Regions from separate parts of the Homo sapiens genome. Here region 2 is linked to region 1. The links come from fine-mapping of genetic effects on gene expression. A gene starts in region 1. The other region holds a variant in brackets. All regions are shown on one strand. Distances are between the middles of the regions.

Region 1 (4,383 bases):
ATTGGCATGCCAGCAAATACAGAAGCCACAAGGAACACACCACTGGGAGAAGGGACAGAGAAGGTGTTTCCCACAATGTAAGAACCACTTCCACATGGGGGAGTCAAATAAGAAATAAGTGAGTACGCCAAGCCACACATTGTAAGCCAGCAGTCAGCATTCCCCAGAATTAACCAGCCCCACAGACATAGCCACAGGACTTACAGACAAGCATACTGAGCCTGCATATTGCAATGACTCTTGGACACATCTTTACTGAGAACTCACATCATCAATGTGATCCCAGCCCAGCTGTCTTCAGAAATAATAGAACCTAAAACACATCCTATAAACACACCTCTTGGCACTTAAACAGAGTTTTTACTATGTTGATTTCCATTCACTCAATTTTTTTTTCCTTCTATATGTTTCCTATATGTATCCTAATTCCCCATTAGTCTGGGGCTCATTGGGGGCAGAGACATTTCTTCCTCTGCATTGCACAAAAAAAACCACAGAATGAACACACTCAATAAACCATACTAAATGTTTCCCCTCACAGTTAAAATGTATCCGTACCTAATTACTCCATCCTCAGAATTCTCGGATCTAAAAATGCAACCACAGTCTCACATCCGCTGATGTGAAATATTTACATTCTTCCTCAAATTTGTTTTGCTCTAAAATCTTGGAATCACTTTCTTAATTCCTTGCCCAATGGATACTGGATATTCATATGGAAAAAGTATTTCTCCATATTTCAAAGTCTAGTTCTTGGTAGCAGTTTATTACAAGTGCCCAGGCTTCATGATTCATTTCCATGGGTTAGAACCCAGGGGCCTAAGTCACTAGCTCCAAACCTGTTTTGAGATATTTCAATTTTATTTAAAAGGCCCAAGAATCAGGGCTTTGCAAACAGATGTTGTTAGCTGTAATTCCGCTGACTTGACTCTCCCTCCTGCCATTGCTCATTGGTGGCTGCAAGCCCAGCAAGGTCTTTGCAAGCCCTGCAACCTATATACCACCCAGGCTGGGGTTGGCATACCCGCTTATTGCTGTAGCTCCCCCGAGAAAGGGAAGGACCTGTCTAGGGGAGAAAGGTCAGAGTCCGGAGGAGTCTGTGGCAGCACACATTCTTACCGCATCGAACTCCGCTTGATCATCCTCAGGTAGGTCGCTAGTTTCATAAACATCTGGCTCATTCCTGGCCTGCAGGTAGAAGCAGTGACCACCCAACCTCACTACCCAGCATCCAACAACACCCCTTCCCCCACTCCATTTGAATAAGCTAACAGAGAAGGCGGGGTGTGATGTCAGGGTTCTGTCCTTTCTCCTCCACCTGCCCCGTGAGTCAACAGTATGTCAGTTCCCATGTCTCAAGGGGTAGGGATGACAGCGGAAACAATTGGGACCTGACAGTAAACGGTGAGTGTAAGTGATAGCAACGATGTTACCCTAAATCTAGAGGCGGGCAGGTCCTTGGCAATCACTATTGCCAAAGAAGGTGAAGGCTATCCTCCAATTAGGCCCCGTACACCACCACCCTGGCACAAGGATTGAGAGTGACTCAGGACCTTAGTACTCAAGGTCCTGTGTCCCAACCCTCACCTTGAGAAGCAGGCAGGGCAGCACAAAAGGAAGGTACACGCCAGGATTGTCATGGGAGTGGGGGCTGGGGGAGGGCATAGGTTCCCTCAAGGATAGAGCTCCCCATCTGGCACAAGAGGGTTCTGCCAGATGGCAGAACCTCTTCCTTGGCAGGATGAAGGCCATCGTTAAGTGGTCTGGTGTGTGTGTCTGGGGTAGCGATGGGGTCTTATGGAGAGATTTGGGGGGGACATGGGAGGCGTTGACACGGATGGTGGAAAAACTCAGGCACAAGAGGTCAGTACCCGGAGTCGATTTCTGGGCCGAGCTACCGGCGACTGCCGGAAAGGGGGCCTGGTGCGCCGTCCGGCGGCCCGGCCCAGTCGGGTCAGAAGAGTTCGGGGGGTGCTGAGGCCGATCGGAGAACGAGCGGCGGGAGCCCTTGGGCGGAGGATGGGCTGCAGGCGGGAGGGGTCGCGGGCTGGTTTCTGCTGGGGGTCCTTGGGAGGTCGGGGGCGCGGTCCTGGGGAGCCGGGGCCGGTCCTGTACTCACAATGCCGGGAAGGTCGGCGTATTTAGGGTCCGCCATGGCGGCGGCGAGACGGGCTGGGGGACCCGGGCCTCGGTGGAGCCGGGGCCGGTGTTCGGGTAGGGGAGAGGCTGGGTTCGGGTCCCGGGCTAAGGCGGCGGCAAAGGGAGCGGCAGATGAGCAGGAAGTCTCGCGACAGCAGTAGCACAGCAGAAGGGTAAAGCAAAAGTCGCGAGAACAGCCCTGCTGCCACACCCCTGGAGAGGCCGGGATTGGGGAGAACGAGGCCAGGGAATGAGGTAATGGCCAGGGGACGCCGCCTAGGATTGTGGGATGTGTAGTTTTGGTGTACTGGAGCTTGGGCGGGGAGCGACAATAACGAACCTTGGGGAGCTATTTCATACAGCCTTTTCTCTCACTTTTACAGCAAGTCAGTGAAAGAACATTTATAATTCCTGTTTGGGGCTCCCAGGAATAAAATGACTAGATTAAATGATACAGGTAGTCATACTGTGACACAGCCGGGGTTTCAAAAACAAGAAGTTTGCTTGATACTGTGTATTATAAAAACAAAATAAAAACAAGAAGTAAAATTTAGTAAACGCGTAGTGTATGTTAGGAATGAAAAAGTTAGGCAATCTTCTCAAGTAAGGGCTTTCAGATAATTTGAATTTCAGATAATAAGTAGGTGTGTGTGTGTGGTGTGTGGTGTGTGGGTATACTAACCCCCCAAAAATTAAGTATCTGAAATTCACATTTAACTGGGCATCCTGTTTTTGTTTTTTGTTTTTCAAATCTGGCAATTCTATCTGAAGTTCATAAGTAGGTAAGTGGTGTCTCCATGTCTGTCTGAACACTCTCTGGGCTCTTAACTACTTCGTTAATAGTTCTCAGACTTTTATTTATTTTTCAATTTTTTCAATTTTGTGGGTACACAGTAGGTGTATGTATTTATGGGACACATGAGATATTTTGATACAGGCATGCAATGTGAAATAAGCACATCATGGAGAAGAGGGTATCCATCCTCTCAAGCATTTATCCTTTAAGTTACAAATAATCCAATTACTCTTTAAGTTATTTTAAAATGTACAGTTGAGTTATTCTTGACTATAGTCACCCTATTGTGCCATCAAATAGTAGGTCTTATTATACTTTCTAATTTTTTGTACCTATTCACCAACCTTACCTTCCGTTCTCAGACTTTTAAATTTCATCGTTCAATAAAATTAAAACAACTACAAACCTTGAAGATTTGCCTTTTTATTTTATCAAGTAAGTATATTACAAATAGAAAACCTATTATTTACTGTCACCATCATTACTTGGTAGAAAAGCAAGAAGGACACACTCAGAATAAAAGATAGTCCTTTGAAACTTATCAAATCCATCTTTATATTAAAAAAAAACTCACCATTGTTCTTTTGGAGGTGAGGGCATACTCAGTGAACTTTTGTCTCTGACCAGTGACCCTCCATGGACTGGCATTTTGAAACCCCTTTACTAAAGATGCCACCTTGGAGCCCCTGGGGACCCAAGGATGGGATGTTTCCCAGGATGTTTCCTGAGCTTGCAGGATGCTGCAACACTTAGAAATTGTGCCAAACCAAGTGACTAGAGAGTTCCTGAGTTCGGAACTCGTTGTCTTTCTTTCTCCTGGCTCCTCCCCAAGCCTCTATCCCTTTCTCCATAGTCCTACAGCTTTCCTGTCCCATTCCTTATGTTGGACTCTTTTCTTTCAGTTCCCTTAAGATTCAAGGTAGGTTAGAGGTGTAGCCCCAATGTGGGAAACCCCCTGAGTTCTGAATAGTTAGGTCTTGTCTGGCCAGGCTATCAGCCTCTTACTTTTGTCCCATAGTGTCTTAAGTGACCTTAACCACTCACCAGACAGTTGCTGAGCAGAACTTTCCTTTCCTCCTCCTTCTCCCATCCACCCTGCCCTTCCTCTTTGCCTAGAACCTCAACTCCTGCAGTCCAACTCTCTGTTGGCCAGCAGAGGCCTGTGACATGGAGAAAAATCAATTTGGCCAGCTTCTTGGTGGTTCTTTCCAGGGGCTGCAGCAGGAGTCTGACCCAAAGGAAGGAAGGACAAGGAATCTCTGGGCTTGGCATTTCTTTCGTTTTTCTTCCCCCACACCTTTTTTTTTTTGGCCAGGGAAGGGGGCTGAAGTATTGGGACTCTATCCTCCAATGGTTACTGAGACAGAAAACACACACTCCCGTAGGTATCTGAATTTGCCTGAAACCCAAATGCCGGCTTTGCCTCAGACTTCAAAGTCTCTCTGGCC
Region 2 (4,383 bases), 70 kb before region 1:
ACCCCAGCTTCTCCCCTAAACAATCTGGGGTAGTGGGAAAGCAGCAGTCACAGAAGGTTGTGGTCTAGTTCTGGGAAGCTCTACTCTGAGCCTCGCTGGAGTTTTCTTATCCATGAACCTGGCCCAGCCCCCTCACCTCGGAGCAGACCCCGCTCCTGCAGGCTTTGTAAGGGCGGTCTCTTCGCGATGAGCCGCTTTAGTTTGTTGCGCACGCGGTTCTGCTCGGTGCCTTCGGGCCCCCGAACTGCAGGAGGCAGGTAGAGCGGGGCGTGAGCGCCCGGGAGCCTCGCTGCGCTCCCGGACTCTCCCTCCCCAGCCCGCGCCTCACTGGAGCTCCGGCGGCTGCTGAGGCGCAGCAGCGGCTTGGACACCAGCTCCGACTCCTCTTCTTCGTCCTCCCCGGCGCTCAGCTCCGCGGGTCCAGAGCCCGACAGACGCAGCTCCAGGGGGTTCTCCCGATCCTAGACCCGGGGCGGGCCGTGTCGAAGGTGAGAGAGGAGAGAAATCTGTATCCCTAGCTGGACTCTGACCCACTGCCGGGGTCCCACATCCCGGCCCAGGCAAGGGCTCTCCACTGAGCCCACCCTGCCCCCAACTGCTCCTGACTCCTATCGTTCCTACCCCACTCCCTTGGTCCCGGCCGGTCGGAGCCTCCCTCCGGGCCTCCACCCATCTAACCAGCCGCTCGATGACAGTCCGCAGCGCGCGGTGCCAGGCTCGCAGCTCTGTCTCGTGGTCCGACTGCAGCAGGAACTCGTGGCCAGGGATCGTGCGGATCTGAGGGCCAGGCAAGGAAACGCTCGGGTCAACGGGAAGGAGTATAATAAGCAGGGAGACCTAGCGGGAGGCCTGCGCGGGAGATTGGGGGCGCCCTCGGGTCGGGTGGGGCCTTGGGGACGCGCGGGAGGGCGCTCACGTGCAGGACGTTGCGGCGGCTGGACAGGTGGCGGCCGTGCGCCAGGGCCGCCCCGCGCAGGTCCACGCTACTTTCGGGCCGGCTACCCGCTGGTCCCTGACAATGAGGGAGGAAACTGAGGCCACGGTGTTGTTTCCTTCACTGCTTCCCTCTCCCCGGTGGGCTGTGAGGAGGTGGGAGGCTTCCTCACTTCTTTACTTTCCTCTGCACCGCCCTCCCCGCTGCCGCCCCCACATTGGCGTGAGGCGGTAGGCAGCGCCCGCACCCATCCTGCGCCTCTCGCTCACACTCACCCAGCCTGAGGAGGGCGCTGTCGGCGGTGGCTCTCGGTAGAACACCAGGCTGTTACCCGTTAACACCACCCAAGACGGGCCCCAGTTCTTCCTGCGGGGACAGAGAGGGGAGGTAGTGGTAGCGAACAGGTCATTCTAGAATGACACGAGGAGGGTGCTCTTCCAACACCCTGCTCTACCCTATGGAGTTGACAGCCCAGGCCCTAGCTGTATTCTGGGTTCTCACCTGAGCTTGCGCCCCCCTTGGGCAATCTTGGTCATGTTGAGCAGACCCGACTTTTCCACCTCCTGGGAAGTGGAGGGAATGGGATCTGTAAGTCACCCTCGCCCTCCATAGTGGCCACGGCTTTCCCTAGGGGGTCTCCCAGGAGTGAAGTCCCTTAAAGTTGCTGGGGGAGGGCTGGGTAGGAGGATATTCAGAAAGAGGAAGATGTTTATGTGGAGCAGGAAAAGGGGGGAGGGGGGGCAGGGAGGATCTTGGCCTTCACAAAGAAATGGGAGATTCACATGGGGGTCGTCCAGGAGCTGCGGCAGAGGTCGAGGGGCCTGCAAGGCTGGAGGGTCAAGCTGCGAGGTGCGTTGGCTGAGGCTGAGTGAACCCTAGGGGAGAGGATTGGAGAAACAGGTGGGGAAACGCTCGACTCAGGGATCCCTGGCTGAAGGAGGAAGAGGGGTGGGATACGGGTGAGAGGTGGGGGGTGTGGTGGGGAATGGAGAATGTCTTACACAAAACAGAAAGTCATAACAAGCTGGCTTTTTCTGCATGTGACTGGGAGATGGGAGGGATCTCACCTGTGGGTCAAGCGGTTCTGGGGTCCCTGTGTCAGATCTGAAGCCCTTTGCCTGAGGTTGCAGGACATCATTGTTCCTCTTCAGGGTCTGTGTCCCCTCCATGGAGCCAGGGTTCTGGGTTAGGGGAGGAGGAAATAAAGCTACATCCAGATGCCACCTCTACCCACTCTCCACACCCTTCTTATACTTGGCTGATTCTTCTGATCTTCTGAGAGCCCCGGAGAGAAAACACACTACCTTGAGGTTCATCAGGGGAAGGAAGAGCTTGAGGGGACAGTGGAGAAGCAGGAGGTAAGGTCTCACCGTCTCGCTGCGACTGCGGCGCGGGGGCTTCCAGGACTTGCAGCCAGTCAGTGAATTTATGTAGAAGCAGCGTCCAGAGTTGGGGTCCAGGTGCTGCTCCCAGGCATCCAGCCTCTGCAGCAGGGGGCATGCAGGGCCTGGGGGTGGGGACCGAGGACAGCGGCGAAGGTCCACCAGGTTACAGTACACAGGGGG[C/T]TCTGACATGAGGGGCTGGGGGCCTGCCTGCCAGAAAAGGGGGAAGAAGGAGGTGGTCATTCTGCCTGTTGCCCTTCCCATGCTTCTCTTGGCCTTCCCACCTCCTGCTCCCTCCCCCATTGTCTTCTCACCGCCAGCTCTGGGCTGAGGTGACCCAGGGTACTGGGGGAGAAACCTCAGGCCCCAGCTGCTTTTTAAAAATTCTCTCTCTCACAGTTTTCTTTGCTCTTCTCCTCACTTCCTGTTGCCAACTTCCCGCCTCCCCCACCCCACCCCCACCTCAGGGCCACAGGAAAGGGGAACAGGCTTTTTGTGGGGTGGGGGGAATGTTGAAGGGGGTGCCCCACCCTCACATCCTGCAAGGTAAAAGAAGACAGAGAAGGGTCTACAGAAGGGAAGAGGAGCCCCTTTCCACCCACGGTTAAGAAAGAGAGGGAAGGGCTGGGCAAGTCACATCTCTAGAGGAGACCTGCTGTAGCCTATCAGGCAAGCAGAACACAGAAAAACCCTGCCCTGGGCTAGGAGTCTGGAGGAAGGAAGAGCACAGGGCTGGCCTTTCAGTGCCTCCACTGCGCCCTGTGCCCTGTCCCCTCAGGGCCTTTGGTACCTACTGTCCCTTCTCACCTCCTACCCAGTTTGCCTCTCGGCTGCCTCTTTCTCCTCCTTGCTCAGAGTCAACTGAATGCCGTGACCTCACAGATGTCTCCCCGCACCACCTCAGCCACTCTCCACCACATTAACTTGCCTTTAGACTTATCAGTAGTACCAAGCGTTATCTTATTTATTTGTTTTTGTGTTTGTCATCCCCAGGGGAGTCCCCTGAAGACAGAGGTGCTGTCTGTCCTGTGCCTAGAACAGGGCCCAGCTCAGAAGAGCTGTGACTCACTGTGCTGGCACTGGCTTCTGACGGCAAGTCTTCCTGGGAGAGGGATCTTCCGCTTGGTCCTTCCTGGAAAGGCTTCAGAAGGCTGGGGCTCAGATTGTCAGTGCTGACGCTCCTACACATTTTGCGGGGAAGTGGAGGAGGCTGCTCCGAGCTAGCCTGAGCCCTGCTTGGGAGGGCCTGAGACAACTCCTCCAGGGAACCATGAAACAACTTCGGCCCTGGAAACAGAAAAGGGGAGGGTGGGTGGCAGGTGATCAGAGGTGTTGTTGTAACTGGGTCCCTCATCTTGGGAACTCACAGGGAAGACAAGAAGGGCAGAGGGAGGATGTGGAAAATGGCATGAGACCTAGAAGCCTTAGGACTAGGAGGACAGGCAGTGGGATGAGGATGCCATGGCGGGGGCAAGAGGTAGGCTGATCAAAGAAAAACAAGAGAAGATGGTTAGCAGAAGCTTGAGGGAGGGGGACCTCCCCAAAATTCCCAGAAGCCAGGGAGGTAGGAAGGTGATGGGAGGTAGGAAGGTGAAGGGAGAGGGCTTAGCGCTTACTCACCAGGAGTCCAGAGCAATTGGCCGGGGATGACGGTAGTTGGACTCTGGGAAGGGATGGATTCCTCTATCATATAGGCTGCTGGGACGAAGATGGGTCGAGAGGTGGAGGGAGCTTCTAGGCGTCTTGCCAACCACCAGTCGGAGTTGGTCTTTCGAAGCAGTAGGAACCTATCCCCTTCAGCCAGAGACACCTGCTGGCCATCTGCCCCAGTATAAGTAAAGGCATAGAGGGCACAGAGCTGGGATCCCCGAGGAGGGCTTCGGGGGCCCAGCCCTAGGATCCCCCAGGAACTTGGCCACCACCGGCTGGATAGCATTGTAGCCAGCACTGTCACCTGTGAGAAAAAGGGACACTGGAGACCCAGAAGGGAATAGGCCTGGCTGTCTCCAGGTAGACAGACATGGTTCTAGGAGCAGTGTTGCAGGGAGGTGAGGACGGGAGCCCTTG

What was found. PIP is the estimated chance that this variant, and not a neighbour inherited with it, causes the effect. A credible set is the group of variants that fine-mapping cannot tell apart.
Region 2: its variant is the best candidate, but not a certain one, in a credible set for the expression of DCTN2 in whole blood (TOPMed, PIP 0.53).

The regions. Positions count from the first base shown.
Region 1 is chr12:57,544,909-57,549,291 of GRCh38, forward strand. It overlaps DCTN2 (dynactin subunit 2), which reads right to left and starts at 2,284. Exons shown (of 14, transcript NM_001261413.2): 1 at 2,120-2,284; 2 at 1,120-1,188. The coding sequence starts at 2,155. RefSeq lists an enhancer at 2,413-2,552.
Region 2 is chr12:57,475,155-57,479,537 of GRCh38, forward strand. It overlaps ARHGAP9 (Rho GTPase activating protein 9), which reads right to left. Exons shown (of 18, transcript NM_032496.4): 2 at 3,937-4,270; 3 at 3,386-3,603; 4 at 2,305-2,526; 5 at 2,002-2,115; 6 at 1,717-1,809; 7 at 1,436-1,497; 8 at 1,210-1,300; 9 at 917-1,012; 10 at 679-777; 11 at 329-461; 12 at 137-244. The coding sequence starts at 4,252. Among named protein-coding and RNA genes, the nearest start is that of ARHGAP9, 2.5 kb to the right of the region's middle. RefSeq lists enhancers at 747-1,636, 2,106-2,235, 2,686-2,885, 3,246-3,295. The variant C/T (reference allele first, on the strand shown) is at 2,500.